Regions from separate parts of the Homo sapiens genome. Here region 1 is linked to region 2. Evidence: fine-mapped expression QTL. Tissue or cell type: whole blood. Region 2 holds a variant in brackets; the other region holds the start of a gene. All regions are shown on one strand. Distances are from middle to middle.

Region 1 (8,170 bases), 23 kb before region 2:
GCTGAGGCCTCCCCGGCTGCTGCTGCACCATCCACTAGTAGCCCCTGCTCTGCCTCTAGAGGTCTGGGAGTGGTCTGGGGAGCTCAGAACCCATTTGATGCCCAGAGAGGGTGGGTTAGCTGCCTCGGGACACACAGCCAGTGAACAGCAAAGGCAGATAGGGGCCCCTGTCTGTTGGGGAAGACAAAGCTGGACTCTGCCATCAACCCCAGCTGTGTGTGTGGTCAGGGATGGGCAAGGGGCAGGGCATTAGGACAGGGTGGGAGCCCAGAGGAGGTTGAAACTCTCTCTTTTTTCTTTTGTTTTGAGACGGAGTCTCACTCTGTTGTCCAGGCTGGAGTGCAGAGGCACGATCTCAGCTCACTGCAACCTCCGCCTCCAGGTTCAAGCGATTCTCCTGCCTCAGCCTCCCAAGTAGCTGGGATTACAGGCGTATATCACTATGCCTGGCTAATGTTTGTATTTTTAGTAGAGACAGCGTTTCGCCATGTTGGCCAGGCTGGTCTCGAACTCTTGACTTCAGGTGATCCGCCCACCTTGGCCCCCCAAAGTGCTGGGATTGCAGGTGTGAACCATTGCGCCCAGCCAAAACTGTCTCCTCTGAAGGCTTCTGTTCTCTGCCTCCAGCATGGCTCACTGGGACCTCACCCTGGTCTCCTGTCTCCAGCCCTCCCCCCATCACAGTCTGTTCTCCCCGCTGCAGCCAGGGGTTGCCTGTGAGCATTGAGTCAGGTCCCGTCCCTCCTCTGCCCACAGCCCTCTATGGCTCCCACCTCCCTCGGAGTCAAGGCCCAAGTCCTCCCTGCAGTCCGCAAGGCCCTGCATGAACTGCCCTGGCCCCTCCCTGCCCTCCCTTCCTCCCTCTCTCCCCCTTGCTCCAGCCACACGGGCCTCCTCGCTGTTCCTCCAACATGCCAGGTGCAGTCCTGCCTCAGGGCCTTTGCACAGGCTGTTCCTACTGCCTGGAACACCCTTCCCTGACTCTCTGTTTAACCACCTCCTCCACATCATAGCCTGACATGTCACCTTTCCGGAGAGGCGTCCCCCAGTCACTGATCCCTCTCCACCTTCCCTGCATCCCCCACAGCGCCAATTGCGAGTTGACATTCTCCTGTGCTATTATTTGGCTCTAGGCTCTGTGAAGGCGAAATCTGGTCTCTCTGGGTCACTGCTGAATTTCAGTGTCCAGCATGGAGTCTGGCACACAGTAGGCACACAATAAATGCTGACTCTGTACTGCATAATTACAGTCTGGACGTCTGAGGGTCGTCCAGCCCCCAGACCTCATAGAAGGTACGCTGCCGAGAACACCCTCTCCTAGCCCCAAGCTCTGAACCTCCATCCCTCATCATCCTCTCAGCCTCCCCGTCCCCGCTAAGATCTTCCCTCAAGAGGGCCTGGGGAGGGGGCCTCTCCTGCCCCCATTGCAGCCCCAGACTCCTGCAACGGGGTGGCATCTGAGGCTCCTGCCCTCAAAACATCAACCCAGGCTCGGTGACTCAAGCCTCTAGAGGGCTGGTGAATGTGACCCCCATAAAATCCAGGGTAATTCACATGGCCCCCGTCCCTCTCCTGTTCAATGCTTCCAAGGAGGTGGTCCCAGGCTCTGAGACGAGGCCCCACCATCTTCACCACCTCTCGGCCATCCTCGACCCATTTCCCAGAGCTGCCCCAGGCCGGCAGTGAGCTGTTCCCGTGGCCCCAGCGCCCTTCTCTGCAGACCCCTCCTTGGGCCAGAAGACGCCCCACTTGAGGGTCGTCTTGGCCAGGGGACCTCTTTGGGGACCCAGATATCCAAGTGTGAGTGTGGGTAACGGACACTGGAGTGGGGCTGTGGGAAAGATAAGGCGGTAGGGAGAGACCAGAGAAGGAAGAGAGAGACAGAGCTTCAGAGACAGAGAAAAACAGCAGAGAAAAATGCAGAGACACCAGAGAGATAAAGAGACACAGACACACATGTTGAGACACAGCGAGAAAAAGAGCAGAGACCAAAATAACAGAGACAGAGACACAGAGAGAGAAATACACAGCGGGAAGAGACAGAAATGGACAGAGACACGCAGAGAAACAGAGAGACAAAAGAGACACACAGAGAGAAAAAGAGCAGAGACAGAAATGGAGAGAGACAGAGAAAGAGAGACAGAAATGGAGAGACACACAGAGGAAAGAAAGCAGAGACCAAAATGGGCAGAGACACAGAGAGAGACAGAGACAAAAGAGACAGAGACTCACAGAGACACAGAGAGAGATGCGCGCACACACAGACAGAACTGGACAGGGACACAGAGACAGAGACACAGAGAGACAGAGAGAAAAACAGCAGAGACAGAGACAAATGGACAAAGAGACAGAGAGACAGGGAGAGAGAGACACACACATACACAGACACAGAGAAAAACAGAGACAAAAATGGACAAAGAGACAAAAGAGACAGACACAGAGAGACACAAGGAGAAAAACAGCAGAGACAGAAATGGGCAGAGACACAAAGAGACAAAGGGGAAGAGAGACAGAGACACACACACAGAGGAAAAAAGCAGAGACCAAAATGGGGAGACAGAGACCAGAGAGGGAGACAGAAAAGAGAGAGGGAGACAGAGATGAGGGAGAAACAGGGAGGAAAACAGCAGAGAGAGAAGTGGGCAGAGACACAGAGTGACAGAGAAAAGAGAGACAGAGACAGAGACAATCACAGGCAACCAAATCATCAGGGAAAGAAATAAACAGAGGCAGAGATGGAGAGAGACACACAGAGAGGAAAAAACAGAGACCAAAATGGAGAGAGAGACAGAGACAAAGACAAAAGAGAGAGAGGTGAGGAGACAAAGATGAGAGACGCAGAGATAAAAGAGACAGAGACAAGAGACAGAAACAAGAGGGAGACAGAGATAAGAGATGGAGATGAGACAGCCACAAAAGAGATGAGAGAGACAAAGATGAAAGAGACAGAGATAAAAGAGAGACACAGACAAAAGAGAGAGATGAAAGAGACAAAGAGAGGCACAGAGATAAGAGTCAGAGACAAGAGACAGAAAGAAGAGGGAGAGAGATGAGAGACAGAGACAAAAGAAGAAGAGACAGAGATGAGAGACAGAGACGAGAGAGTGACAAAGATGAGAGTGACAGAGACAAAAGAGAGAGAGGCAGAAAAACAGCAGAGACAGAAACAGGCAGAGAAACAGGCACAGACAGAGAGCCCGAAAGCAAGACCTGACACCGGCAAGGCCGGGTCAGGAGAGAGGCCGGGCGGGCAGCGCGAGGTGGGAAAGCAGTGCCGGCCCGGGAGGCCGCCTTGGGCGCCCGCCTCCCCCGCCGCTCTCCAGGGGTCCCCGGCCGCCGCCCCCGCCCCACCCCACCCCGAGCCCCGCGGCCACCTGGGGTCGCTGACGAGCAGCAGCACCGAGCCGTCCTGCAGGCGCGCGTCGCGCACCGTCTGGTGGTCGTCCAGCCGCCGCGCGTTGTAGTAGAAGGCGCGCTTCCAGGAGCTCACGCCCTGGCCCACCAGCTGGGCGCGCAGGTCGCTGAGCGTGTCCCGCGGCCGCACGGTCAGCGGTAGCAGCAGCGCCTCGTCCGCCAGGTGCACCTTGATGTGGTAGCGCTTCCAGCGCGACAGCCCCCGCCGCAGCCCCTCCATGGCGCCCGCCCGGCTCCGGCTCCAGCTCTGGCCCCGGGCCCCGAGCGCCCCGCGCACCCGCCCGACTAGCCTGGCCGCCCGCCCCCGCCGCGCCCGCGCTCCGCCCGCCCGGACACGCCCGGCACGCAGTGGGCAGGCCCGGCCCGGCGGGGCGGGGCGGGTGCCACGGTCCCCTCAGGCGTCCGCTCCCCACTGCTGGCCCCAGAGTGCGCCCGGGGGTCTAGAGGCGGAGTGGCCACTCAGCACAGAGCCATCAGCGAGGTCATCCCAGCCAAGGAGACGCGCGAATGTCCAGGGGGTTACATGGTGGAGGCTCCAGGGAGGGAGGCTGGGAGGCCACTTTATTTGATCTTTTTAAGGACAGGCTGGAGCGCAGTGGCGCAATCATGGTTCGTTGCAGCCTTGACCTCCCGGGCTCAAGCGATCCTCCCGCCTCAGCCTCTCAAGTAGCTGGGACTACAGGCGCTGCCACCAAGCCCAGCTCACTTTTGTAGTTTTTGTAGAGATGGGGCCTGGCCGTGTTGCCCAGGCTGGTTTTGAACTCCTGACGTCAAGTGATTCTCCGCCTTGGCCTCCCAAAGCGGTGGGATTATAACCCTCAGCCACCACGCTCAGCCTACATTAAAAAAAAAATTTACTTTTAGGCCAGGTGCGGTGGCTCATGCCTGGAATCCCAGCACTTTGGGAGACTGAGGTGGGCGGATCACATGAGGTCAGGAGTTCGAGACCAACCTGGCCAACATGGTGAAACCCCGTCTCTACTATAAGTACAAAAATTAGCCAGGCGTGGTGGCACATGCCTGTAGTTCCAGCTACTCAGGAGGCTGAGGCAGAAGAATCGCTTGAACCCGCAGACAGAGGTTGCAGTGAGCCGAGATTGTGCCACTGCACTCCAGCCTGAGCCACAGAGCGAGACTTATCGCAAAAAAAAAAAAAAAAAAAAAAAAAAAAAAAATGGCCGGGTGTGGTGGCTCACGCCTGTAATCCCAGTACTTTGGGAGGCCCAGGTGGGCAGATCACAAGGTCAGGAGATCGAGACCATCCTGGCTAACGCGGTGAAACCCCCCCGTCTCTACCAAAAATACAAAAAATTAGCCGGGCGTGGTGGCGGGCGCCTGTAGTCCCAGCTACTCCGGAGGCTGAGGCAAGAGAATGGCGTGAACCTGGGAGGCGGAGCTTGCAGTGAGCCGAGATCGTGCGCCACTGCATTCCAGCCTGGGAGACACAGCGAGACTCCGTCTCAAAAAAAAAAAAAAAAAAGAAAGAAAGAAAGAAAGAAAGAGGGAGAGAGAGAGAAAGAGAAGAGGAAAGAAAGAATGAAAGAAAGAAAGAGAGAGAGAGAGGAAGAGAAGGAAAAAAAGAGAAGGGCTGGGTGCAGGGGCTAACGCCTGTAATCCCAACACTTTGGGAGGCCGAGGTGGGCAGATCACCTGAGGTTGGGAGATCGAGATCTACCTGACCAACACAGAGAAACCCCGTCTCTACAAAAAATACAAAAAAATTAGCCAGGCGTGGTGGTGGGTGCCTGTAATCCCAACTACTCAGGAGGCTGAGCCAGGAGAATCGCTTGAACCCAGGAGGTGGAGGTTGTGGTGAGCGGAGATCTGCCATTGCACTCTAGCCTGGGCAACAAGAGGGAAACTCCGTCTCAAAAAAGAAAAGAAAAGAAAAGAGCACCTGCTAAGTGACAGACAGTCTTCTAGGTACTTTATTGGGGTGGGGGAAGCATCTCTTACTTTTCTCATGACACTATGACTTCCCATTTTACAAGTGAGAAAACTGAGGCATAGAGAAGAAAAGAGATTTCCCAGAGGAAACAGAGAGAAAAGTGGCAGAGCTGGGATTCGAACCCAGGCCACCTAGCATTAGCAGTTTTGTTGTAATCCATTCATTACACAAACATCACTTTTTTTTTTTTTTTTTTTTTTGAGACAGAGTTTCACTCTTGTTGCCCAGGGTGGAGTACAATGGCACAATCTCGGCTCACCGCAACCTCCGCCTCCCAGGTGCAAGCAATTCTCCTGCCTCAGCCTTCCCGAGTAGCTGGGATTACAGGCATGCGCCACCAAGCCTGGCTAATTTTTTGTATTTTTAGTAGAGACGGGGTTTCTCCATGTTAGTCAGGCTGGTCTTGAACTCCCGATCTCAGGTGATCCACCCGCCTTGGCATCCCAAAGTGCTGGGATTACAGGTGGGAGCCACCTCGCCCAGCCCACAAACATCACTCTTACACAACCATGAGAGTTCAGATGGAGGTTTCTAGTTTTTATTATTATTATTACTATTTTTGAGATGGAGTCTCACTCTGTCACTCAGGCTGGAGTGCAGTGGCAATATCTCGGCTCACTGCAGCCTCCGCCTCCTGGGTTCAAGCGATTCTCCCGCCTCAGCCTCCTGAGTAGCTGGAATTACAGGCGTGCGCCACCACGCCAGGCTAATTTTTGTATTTTTAGTAGAGACAGGGTTTCACCATGTTAGCCAGGGTGGTCTCAAACTCCTGACCTCAAGTGATCTGCCTGCCTTGGCCTCCCAAATTGCTGGGATTACAGGCGTGAGCCACCACGTCCAGCCTTTTTTTTTTTTTTTTCAGATGGAGATTTTAAAGATAACTCAAACCAAATTAAATTCCAGATGGCCCCTTCAACCCTTGCCCCCAGCGAAATAAACTATACAAATATTAGGAGAAAACACAGGAGTTAAAAATAAAAATAATCTGGGCCAGGCGCGGTGGCTCATGCCTGTAATCCCAGCACTTTGGGAGGCTGAGGCGGGCAAATCAAGAGGTCAGGAGTTCGAGACCAGCCTGGCCAACATGGTGAAACCCCGTCTCTACTAAAAATACAAAAATTAGCCAGGTGTGGTGGTGCATGCCTGTAATCCCAGCTACTCAAGAGGCTGAGGCGGGAGAATCACTTGAACCCGGGAGGTGGAGCTGGCAGTGAGCCGAGACCACACCATTGCACTCCAGCCTGTGTGACAGAGTGATACTCCGTCTCAAAAAAATATAAAAATAAAATTAATCTTAACTGTGTTAAAGCATATTAAACCCAGAAACCTTTAATTAAAAGATTAATAACTGACTACAAATATAAAATTCCTACACACATATGCACATTAAAAAAATACTAGAAGATCAAAAGGCAACATCAAGGAAGAAAGTTTTCCAAAACACGACAGACAAAAGACTGATTTTCTTAATATGTAAAGAGCATCTGGAAATCAATAAGGATTAACAAGCAAATTGAAAAAGGGGTGAGAGACTGGGCACAGTGGCTCACTCCTGTAATCTCAGCACTTTGGGAGGCCAAGGTGGGTGGATCACCTGGGGTCAGGAGATCGAGACCAGCCTGGCCAACATGGTGAAACCCTGTCTCTACTAAAAATACAAAAATTAGCCAGGTGTGGTGGTGGGTGCCTATAATTCCAGCTACTTGGGAGGCTGAGGCAGGAGAATGGCTTCAACCCAGGAGGTTGAAGTACAATGCCCAGGGTGGAGTACAATGGCAACTGTGGAGTACACAGTTGCAGTGAGCCAAGATTGCACCACTGCACTCCAGCCTGGGTGACAGAGTGAGAGACTGTCTTAAGAAAAACAAAACAGGCCGGGCACGGTGGCTCACGCCTGTAATCCCAGCACTTTGGGAGGCTGAGGCAGGCGGATCCCCTGAGGTAGGGAGTTCGAGACCAGCCTGGCCAACATGGAGAAACCCTGTCTCTACTAAAAATTCAAAATTAGCTGGGTGTGGTGGTGCATGCCTGTAATGCCAGCTACTTGGGAGGCTGAGGCAGGAGAATCATTTGAACCCAGGAGGCAGTGGTTGCGGTGAGCCAACATCGCACCATTGCACTCCAGCCTGGGCAACAAGAGGGAAACTCCATCTCAAAAAAAAAAAGAAAAAAGAAAAACAAAACAAACAAATAAAAAATACTAGAAGATGAAGAGGCAACATCAAGGGGGAAAATCTTCCAAAACATGATAGACAAGAGACTGATATCCTTAATATGTAAAAAGCATCTAGAAATCAATATGGATTAACAAGCCAGTCCAAAAAAGGGTGAAAGACATGAATGGATTTTTGTTGTTGTTGTTTTGTTTTTGTTTTTGAGCAAACAGGGTCTTGCTGTTTCCCACACTGGAATGCAGTGACACAATCTTGGCTCACTGAAACTGTGTACCACCCCTCCCGGCTAATTTTCAGTATTTTTAGTAGAGACAGGGTTTCGCCATGTTGCCCAGGCTGGTCTCGAACTCCTGGGATTCAAGCAATCCTCCCACCTCAGCCTCCCAAAGTGCTGGGATTACAAGCATAAGCCACCACACATGAACGGTTTTCTGAAAAGGAAATACAAACGTCTTCTGGGCATAGGCAAGGGAGTTCATTCTCGCTCATGGTAACCTAAATATAAAAAAAAACTACCATGAAATATCTTTTTCTTCTTTTCATCTGTCTGGCTGGTAAAGATGAAAAAGTCTGAGCATTTGCTGTGTTTTCAGGGTTTTGGGAAAAGAGCAGCCTCATGCTGCTGGGGTTCAGA
Region 2 (8,170 bases):
CTTTGCTTTTAAAAAGATCCCCCAAGTTCGAGGGAACCCTGGCTACCAGATTCAACAGTGCGTCTGCCCACCCGAAAACTCGCAGCGAGTGGGACTTAGTAGCGGCGGGTGAAGTGGGGGTACGGGGGGGGATGAGGGTGTGGGTGAGGGACTCTGCTGCCCCGGTCCTGGCTGGCCACTCCGCCACCTTCCAGTCCGCCACCTGGCACCACGTGGCCCTGGGAATGTCCACCTTGTGCAAAGCCGCCTCGCCTAGGAACAAAGTCAGACAATTTTTTTCCCCTTGAAGTGCTCAGCGTTTTCATCGTAACATGGGTTCAGTAACGGTCCCGCAGCCTTTAGAGCGCTTGGGTTTTTTTTCCAGGTGAGAAAAATCATCATCGCACATTGTATTCCAGGTAACTCAAGAGCGTTATTTGCATAAATTGCAAAGAGCTGCTTTTTGCTTTGTTTTCATAACATCCAACCCAGCCAGCTGATCAAACATGCAAAAAAGGGAGAGGAAGTGAGGAGCAGGAGTGAACCACCGTCCTCCACGGACGACACACCTTACCCCGCCACTCCACCGCGGCTTGCCATGTGCCCCGGCCCCGAGGGCCCAGACAGGCCCCTCTCGCCACCTAGAAGAGAAGAAGGGTCTGCAAACACTCCGTTCCTGGGGAAGCCCCTGGACACATGTGGGGGCCACAGCCACCCTCGTCCCTGGAGCCAGCCCCGTACCTTGCCACCTGGCGTGCTCCCGGCTAGCCGCGCCTGCGTCCATGGCACCCTGCCAGGCGCGTGCCTGGTGCTCCTCTAGCCGCTGGTTGTGCTCTCCCCAGTCACGGCCACCCCTTTGCCAAAAGAAAAAGACATGCAGCCATCTAATGAGCCTCCAGGGTTGTGTCGGCAGCAGGCGCACCCACCCTGACCTCAGCTGCATGGTGGGTCATGCCACACAACAAGGGCTGCATGTCAAGTGGGCAAATCAAGGGAAGGGACATTTCCCCAAAGACAGATGTGCTAGTAAGCACGTGAGAAGGTGCTCAACGCCACCCAGAAATGCCAATCCGAGCCACACCGAGATGCTACCTCCCCCTGGCTGGGATGCTAGAATCACACAATAACACACACCGTGGAGGGTGCGAGGAAAGGGAAGAACCCTTGTCCACTGCTGGTGGAAATGTAAAATGGTGTGGCCACTGTGGAAAAGTTTGGTGGTTCTTCAAAAAGTTAAGCGCAGAATTACCATGACCCAGCAAACCCATTCCTACCTGCCAGAAATGAAAACATGGCCAAAGACATCTGTGCATGAATGTTCCTAGCGGCAGGATTCCTAACAGCCAAAGGGAGAAGGACCCCAACACCCATGAACTGATGAGCAGATAACACTATGTAGTGTGTCTGGACCATGGAATGTTCAGCCCTAACTAGGAAGGAAGCGCTGGCCCAGGCAGCATGTGGAGATGAGCCCTGAATACCCAAGGCTTAGGGAGAAGCCAGGCCCAGCAGGCACACCGCGCAGGCCAAGAAATGACTCAAGACGGCAAATCCAGAGCCAGAAAGGGACCTGTGGCTACCAAGGGCAGGGGGGAGGGTGCAGCTGCTAAAAGGGGCAGGGTTTCTTTTGACGTGATGAAAATGCTTCAGAATCAGCCGTGGGGATGGCTAAACAGATCCACGTACACGCAAACCTCCACTGACTGCACACGTGAAACGGGAAGTGTGTGTCGTGTGAACTATACTTAAAGAAAGCTATTTGTTTAAAGTTTCAGACAAACTCTGGGAGATGAAAATCCGAGTCCAGTGTCCTGAGTCCCAAGTGGCCAAGCAGTCACAGTGGCCGTGCAGGAAAGCAGCCAGACCCATCTGCACGAGTGCCTGCCTGCTGTGGGTTGCCGGATGCAGTGACAGTCAGGCCAAGTGAGCCAGCCCACAGGCCCGAGAGGGGCCACCAGAGCCCCCAGCGCGCACTGCCAGGCAAGTGCAATACCGCCCTGGAGGGAGCGGAAAGCTCCCGTGTGGAACCTGCCCTCGGTGACCCGATGGCGCCCAGCCGCTGCTCACCATGGGTGAGTTTCCCGTTTACACTCCCGAGGTATTTACCATAACACCCAGCAAGCGACAGGACAGGAATGCTAATGAAGTCTCACAGGAGAGAACACTTCACACCAACTGATCAGAGCACTGCCACCGTCTGTGCTGCCCAGAGATTCAGGAGAAGCTTCGGGTGTCCTGGGACACTCGGCACAGCACCGAGTCAAAGTCCCTGGCAGAGCTGGAAGTGCCTCTCAGCGCGGAGGGAGGGATGGAACGGGGGAGCACAGGGGGCCAAAACCCACCCTGTGGCGCTGGGCAGGGTCCGAGGCAGCCCTGGGCCAGGGCTGGAGACAAGACAGGACACTCGGCTCACAGAGGAAAGCAGGGCAGCAGCCGCAAAGCAGTCCTGCCACCAGCCTCCTCACGGCCAGCCCAGACGGCAACAGGACAAACAGGCAGGGGTGACTGCAGCTGGCCAAAGAAACTAGAGAGGCACCCAGAGTCCTCCCAGACAAGCCCTGCCCCCCACCAATGCTGACAAGGCTCAGAACAGCACCCCCACTGCAGTGCTGGTGAAGGTGGCTTTGGACACCTGTGGAGGACCTGGCCCAGTGTCCTCAGCCCTGAGTCCTGGGTGGAGGGTCCTCCTAAGTGATTCTAATAGGCAGGATAGGGTTGAGAAGATCCACCCCAGACCAACTGGGGGTCAGAGAAAAAACCCGAGGAAGACACGTGTCAAGAGGCAACGTGGAGGCAGGGGCGAGGCTGCTCTACCACGGACGGGGCAGGACTAAGAGCTTCAGCGCTGTCTCTCCCAGTGTGTACGCAGCCCATGATCGAGACATTCACAACTGCAGGCGACCCCCAGCTCAAGAATGGGGATGGGCCATTCTGGGCGACCTGGACAGCTCCATCCCTGAAAGCCTGTTCTATGCTTTCTTCTTGAGAACCTGGACTTTCTGAGTCAGGGGTTTCAAATGGCAGGACCCCTGGTAGCCCATCCTAAAGCTCCCCTAGCTGAATCAAACCTTGGGGACGTGCCTGGCCAGGCACCAACCTTTTCCCAGGTTAGGACAGATGCTCCCCACCCGGCTGGGGCTCACCCACTAACCTGGGGGGAGGGGGCAGCCCCCGGCCTTCACTCAGCCTCTTGTCGGAGCCGTAGCCCCCCCAGCCATCACGGGAGTCCCGGCCGTGGCGCTCTGGGGGTCCTCCGTGGCCATGGCGGTCATCTCCATAGTGCTGGAAGGCAGGAGAGGAACAGGGTGACACTGACCATGTCACCCACATAGGCCCACCTTCCGGAAGGCCTGTCCACTGCAGGCCCCAGGGTGGCAGGTGGGGCGGAGCTGAGAGAGGACTGAAGGGTGCAGTCTCAGCCCTGCTGGGCCCTGCTTCACTGACCCTCTGCTCCCTGGCTCCCCTCCTCGCACCCCTACAGCTGCATCACTGCCCCACCTGAGCTGCCCCAGGAGCCAGGGCACCCTGGCATTACTGCCCTCAACAGCTCTGCTCAAGATCCACTAAGACGTCACCAAACCCTGTCTTCCCTGAGAAGTTGGGCGCCGCCTCCTTTCCGATAACAGGAGGGCCCTCGGGTGGGTCAGCCCCCCTGTGCTCTGGCAGGGCCACAATTCCGGCCTCCCTGGCCAACCAACTCTGCACGGAGCAGCCAGCAGCCAGGAAGCAGGCGGGTGCTGCCTGCTGTTACAGGCCATTACTCTGCCGCCCACCTCCCACCTCTCCACCAGGCTGCTGCTTTCTCAGAACTCACACCCTGCCACCACGCACGGGGCACCCGCATGGCACCACAGAGACTCAGGGACCATTCTTGTGGTCTTCAGCCCCCCGTGCCCACCAAGCACGGACTTGAAACATGGGGAAGCCCGGGCTCCCCCATCCCCCCGACCCTGGCACATGTGGGCTAAACGACAACCACCATTTGGGTTCTTGGGGGACCCCACAGGCACTAAGACCCAAAGGCTCCCTGAGCAAGTGGACAATGAAGAGACACATGAGGTTTCTACCGGATACAATGAAGAACAAGCCCAACATATTTGAAAATGACAGAAACTTGAGCATTACAAAACAATCAAATATTTGCGCTTTTTTTTTTTTTTTTTTTTTTTGAGACGGAGTCTTGCTCTTGTTGCCCAGGCTGGAGTGCAATGGTGCGACCTCGACTCACTGCAACCTCCGCCTCCCGGGTTCAAGCGATTCTCCTGCCTCAGCCTCCCGAGTAGCTGGGACTACAGGCACTCGCCACCATGCCTGGCTAATTTTTTGTATTTTTAGTAGAGACAGGGTTTCACCATGTCGGCCAGGCTGGTCTTGAACTCCTGACCTTGTGATCCACCCACCTCAGCTTCCCAAAGTGCTGGGATTACAGGCATGAGCCACCACGTCCGACTAAATATTTGTACTTCTAGTCGCTGGCCAGAACCCACACTTGCATACCCGCCACACGTGCTGACTTGGTTGCCACCTCTCTGGGATCAAGCGGCCGCCTGGCTAGAAATGGTCCGCTATGCCTGCACAGCAGTACAGTGGCCCCAGG[G/A]CTTGGCATCGGGGCTCTACTCACCTGCCCATCCCGGTGGTCTCCCATCATTGGCCTCGAACCCTCCCGCCTGCAAAAGGAAAAGATCCCGTTCAAACAGCACCAGGCACGACTACACATTTCTGCAGGTCAGGCAAGTTTCGCGACTGGGATACTTTTTCCATCCCATCACATAAAAACTATAACTGGCCTGGGAAAAAAGGAAAAAGCTAGCTCAAATCGAAAGGCTTTTCCCCGGGGGCAGAAACGAAGTTGGATCCTAAAGAGGTAGGAATAAAGATCTCACTGAACTAAAATTCCTCGGGGAGCTCTCAGTTAGGGGAACAGGGACAAACAGAGGCCTCCAATGATCCCTCATCTTTGGTCTGACCCAATGCGTGGGACTCATCAAAATTCACACCAACTCCACCCCAAACTCCAGCAGAATTAAGAGTGTGGCCTCTCAGCCTCCCTTTCCTGTTCTCCCCGCTCTGACATTCCGACTGAAGGAGCCAATGAATGGGGAAATGGGTCAGAGATGTGCAGCCGAGGGGAGCCCAAAGACAGGATTCTTACACTGGAAAACCAAGGGCTGCCTTTTTAATAAACTAGATGTATTCCTCATTTTAAAAGGCTAAAAAACCCACCCAGACCCTCGAAATACAAAACAGGCCTCATGAGAAATTTTGCACGTCCTCCATCAATTCTCTGGTAGCTCTTGGGCACAACCAGGTTGTGCTGACAAACACTGCTGCCTCACAAGAGAGCTCAGTGTAGATGGCCTGCACTCAGGCCCCTCCTGGCCCACCTATGAAAAGAGTCGGTGGATGGAATGAGCTCTGAGATGCCTTCCTCTGAGGTAAGCTGGGGATTCCAGCAACTCGCTCAAGTTCTGTGCAAGGCCAGAGTCATCCACTGTGGATCTCAGAAGTAAACGAGGCTTCAGAGCACACAGGAACCCCTGCACTGGGCTGAGAACGAGGTCAGCTGGATGCCCCGGTGCCCACAATGACTGTAGCTAAAGGAGGGGACAAGACCACTGACCTGTCGATGGCGTGGTCCTGGTACTGGCCCCGGTCTCGATGATCGAAGTCGTGAAAGCGGTGGTCTGGCCGGGGAAAGTCTGCACGATATCGGTCCTCCATTGCCACACGCTTTCCTTCTGGCCAATAGGCATCATCTCGTCTGTTGGTTTTTATTTTAAAAGAATACAAATTCCATTAATGAGAGAGGAGGAGGAAAAAAGGAGGAGGTGGAGGTGGGGAGGGGAGCTCTCTCCCCAGACCCAGTATCGTTTAAAATGTCCTGCAGGGCTAATCTCTAAACATTCGATCATCATTGCTTTGATCTGATAAATTAAAACCGCCATTAACAGCCGAGAGGCACACTTGTGTTCTCATCCAACAGTCCCAAAAGGAGCACTGCTGTGAGCTCATTGTCTCGTGAGGCTGTTATTACCTTGATCCCCCCTCATGAGCAACTGAAAAGAAATATTTGATTCTTCTGGAATAGCATTCGAGTTGCCACACTTTTACTTTCCCTGCCTTCCACGGGAGCCTGAATCTCCCTCTGAGTTTCTTGCAAAAGCAAAGAGAATTAGATGGGGTGATAGTGAACTACACACAGCTCTGGACGGCATCCAATTATCTTCTTCCTGATTTTTACCAGAAAACTAGGCTCACGGAGAGCGGGGTGAAGGGTGACTGTCAATTAAGCCGCCTGGGGTAGCTAGAGACCAATAAACCTACTTTCTAAATCAGAGGCAATTTCCTTTTCCACAGCGCCTGCTCTGCCTCTCTGTCTACAAGGACACATGAGACCGGCAGAGTCAGCGGTGGCCAACTTGGGCCTAACGGGCGTTCGGTTGTCTCGCAAGACAGAGAACAGCTATGCTCCACGGGTAAGTGGAGAGGAAAAGCATCACAAACCCTTCAGCAAGTGGCAGCCATCAAGTTTCCCAGAATAACTCAAGTTCAGGAAGATGCTACACAGCCTCCGGTGAGGACAGCGAACTAATAAACCTGCAGCAGCGCAGTGAGATCGGCGGGGGGTCCCCAAGGCGCATGCTCCATATCAAATTTCATTCTCCCCACCGACAGGGACGGAAGGGAAGCCGCTGTTCTGCTGGAAGGGTGAACACCGCTGCCACGCTGGTCTCCGTCCTGCCCACGCTCTGGGCGGGACTCACCGGTCCAGGTCGTAGGGCCTCCGCCCGGGCCGCCGCTCCTGCTCGTAACGCAGCTGCTCCTGCTGGCGCCGCAGCTCCTCGCGCTCGCGGTGGATGCGCTCCTGCTCCTTCCTGCGCTCACGCTCCACGCGCATGCGCTCGCGCTCCAGCCGCTCCCGCTCCATGCGCTCCCGCTCCAGCCGCTGGCGCTGGCACTCGAGCTGCAGGCGTTCCCGCTGTAGCCGGGCCTTCTCCTTCCGCTCATGGAAGGCCTCGAGGCGTTGCTCCCGCTCCCGCTGCTCGCGCTCCCTGCGGGGACAGGTGAGGCTGCCCTGAACTCCCTGCGTGAGCCTCCAAGGAGAAAGCCCGGTGCCCAAAACTGGGTGTGTATTGGAAGCAGAAAAAAAAAATGGATCCAAAAGCTCACCGGGCTTCCCTAAAGCTGCGCGTGCAGGGGGTTACCTTACTTAACAAAGCTACCTTAAGAAAAGCAAAGGCAGCACAGCTGGCAACATTTCTAGGTTTGCTCGAGAACATTTTCCAAATGCTGTGAGCACAGCTTTTGCTTTACTGAGCAATATTTGAGGAAAAGTGACAAGAGAACGCCGGGCATCCCGACATGAAAAGGCCGAATGTCAAGGCAGAGGGACAAGCCTCCTTCAAGACCACAGCCCAGAAGGGAGCCGCGGCAAAATGACAACTGGACTCTGCTTGCAGTTTCTGACCTTAGGTGAAAGGTTTCAACAGGGAAGACAGGCCTCAGCACCCAGGCACCATCCCATCCCATCAAAGCCACACACGGCTGGGCCTTCCACACGGGCCAAGGTCCAACATCAGAGGAGGGGCGAAAATAGACTTTGAGCCAGCAGAAGGCTCAGCCTGTAATCCAGCACTTAGGGAGGCTGACGCAGGAGGATCGCTTGGGCCCAGCAGTTATCAGCCTGGCAACATAGCCAAACCCCATATACTGTAAAGGGCTTTGATGACTTCTTTTTAAGAGACAGGGTCTCACTCTGTCACCCAGTCTGCAGTGCACTGTTGTGATCACAGCTCACTGCAGCCTTGAGCTTCTGGGCTCCAGCAATCCTCCCACCTCAACCTCCTGAGTAGCTGGGACTACAAGTGCACGCCACCATGCCCAGCTAATTTTTAAATATTTTGTAGAGGTGGGGTCTCGCTACATTGCCTAGGATGGTCTTGAACTCCTGGCTTCAGGGGATCCTCTGGCCCTGGCATCCCAAAGTGCTCGGATTACAGGTGTGAGCCACTGCACCTGGCCCTTTGATGACTTTCATGCCACCTGGCATGTCTGGCGGCTCACGTGTGAACAGGTGCTGGCCCCTGCCTCGAGGACCCAGGTTAAGCACGACACCCGCCAGCCCAGGCACTGGCTCTCGGGCACACAGACTGCGCACTCCAAGTACAGCTGGGAGAAGGACAGCCACCCC

Evidence for each region. PIP is the estimated chance that this variant, and not a neighbour inherited with it, causes the effect.
Region 1: it holds the start of TINCR, and the variant in region 2 is fine-mapped to the expression of TINCR in whole blood (TOPMed, PIP above 0.99). The same link has a PIP of 0.9 or more in cerebellar hemisphere.

Annotation. Positions count from the first base shown.
Region 1 is chr19:5,564,291-5,572,460 of GRCh38, forward strand. It overlaps TINCR (TINCR ubiquitin domain containing), which reads right to left and starts at 3,663. Exons shown (of 3, transcript NM_001396408.1): 1 at 3,375-3,663. The coding sequence starts at 3,634.
Region 2 is chr19:5,587,148-5,595,317 of GRCh38, forward strand. SAFB2 (scaffold attachment factor B2) reads right to left here. Exons shown (of 21, transcript NM_014649.3): 15 at 6,744-7,031; 16 at 5,600-5,740; 17 at 4,601-4,646; 18 at 3,131-3,261; 19 at 721-833; 20 at 554-620; 21 at 1-252. The coding sequence ends at 96. Among named protein-coding and RNA genes, the nearest start is that of TINCR, 23 kb to the left of the region's middle. RefSeq lists an enhancer at 2,009-2,631. The variant G/A (reference allele first, on the strand shown) is at 4,577.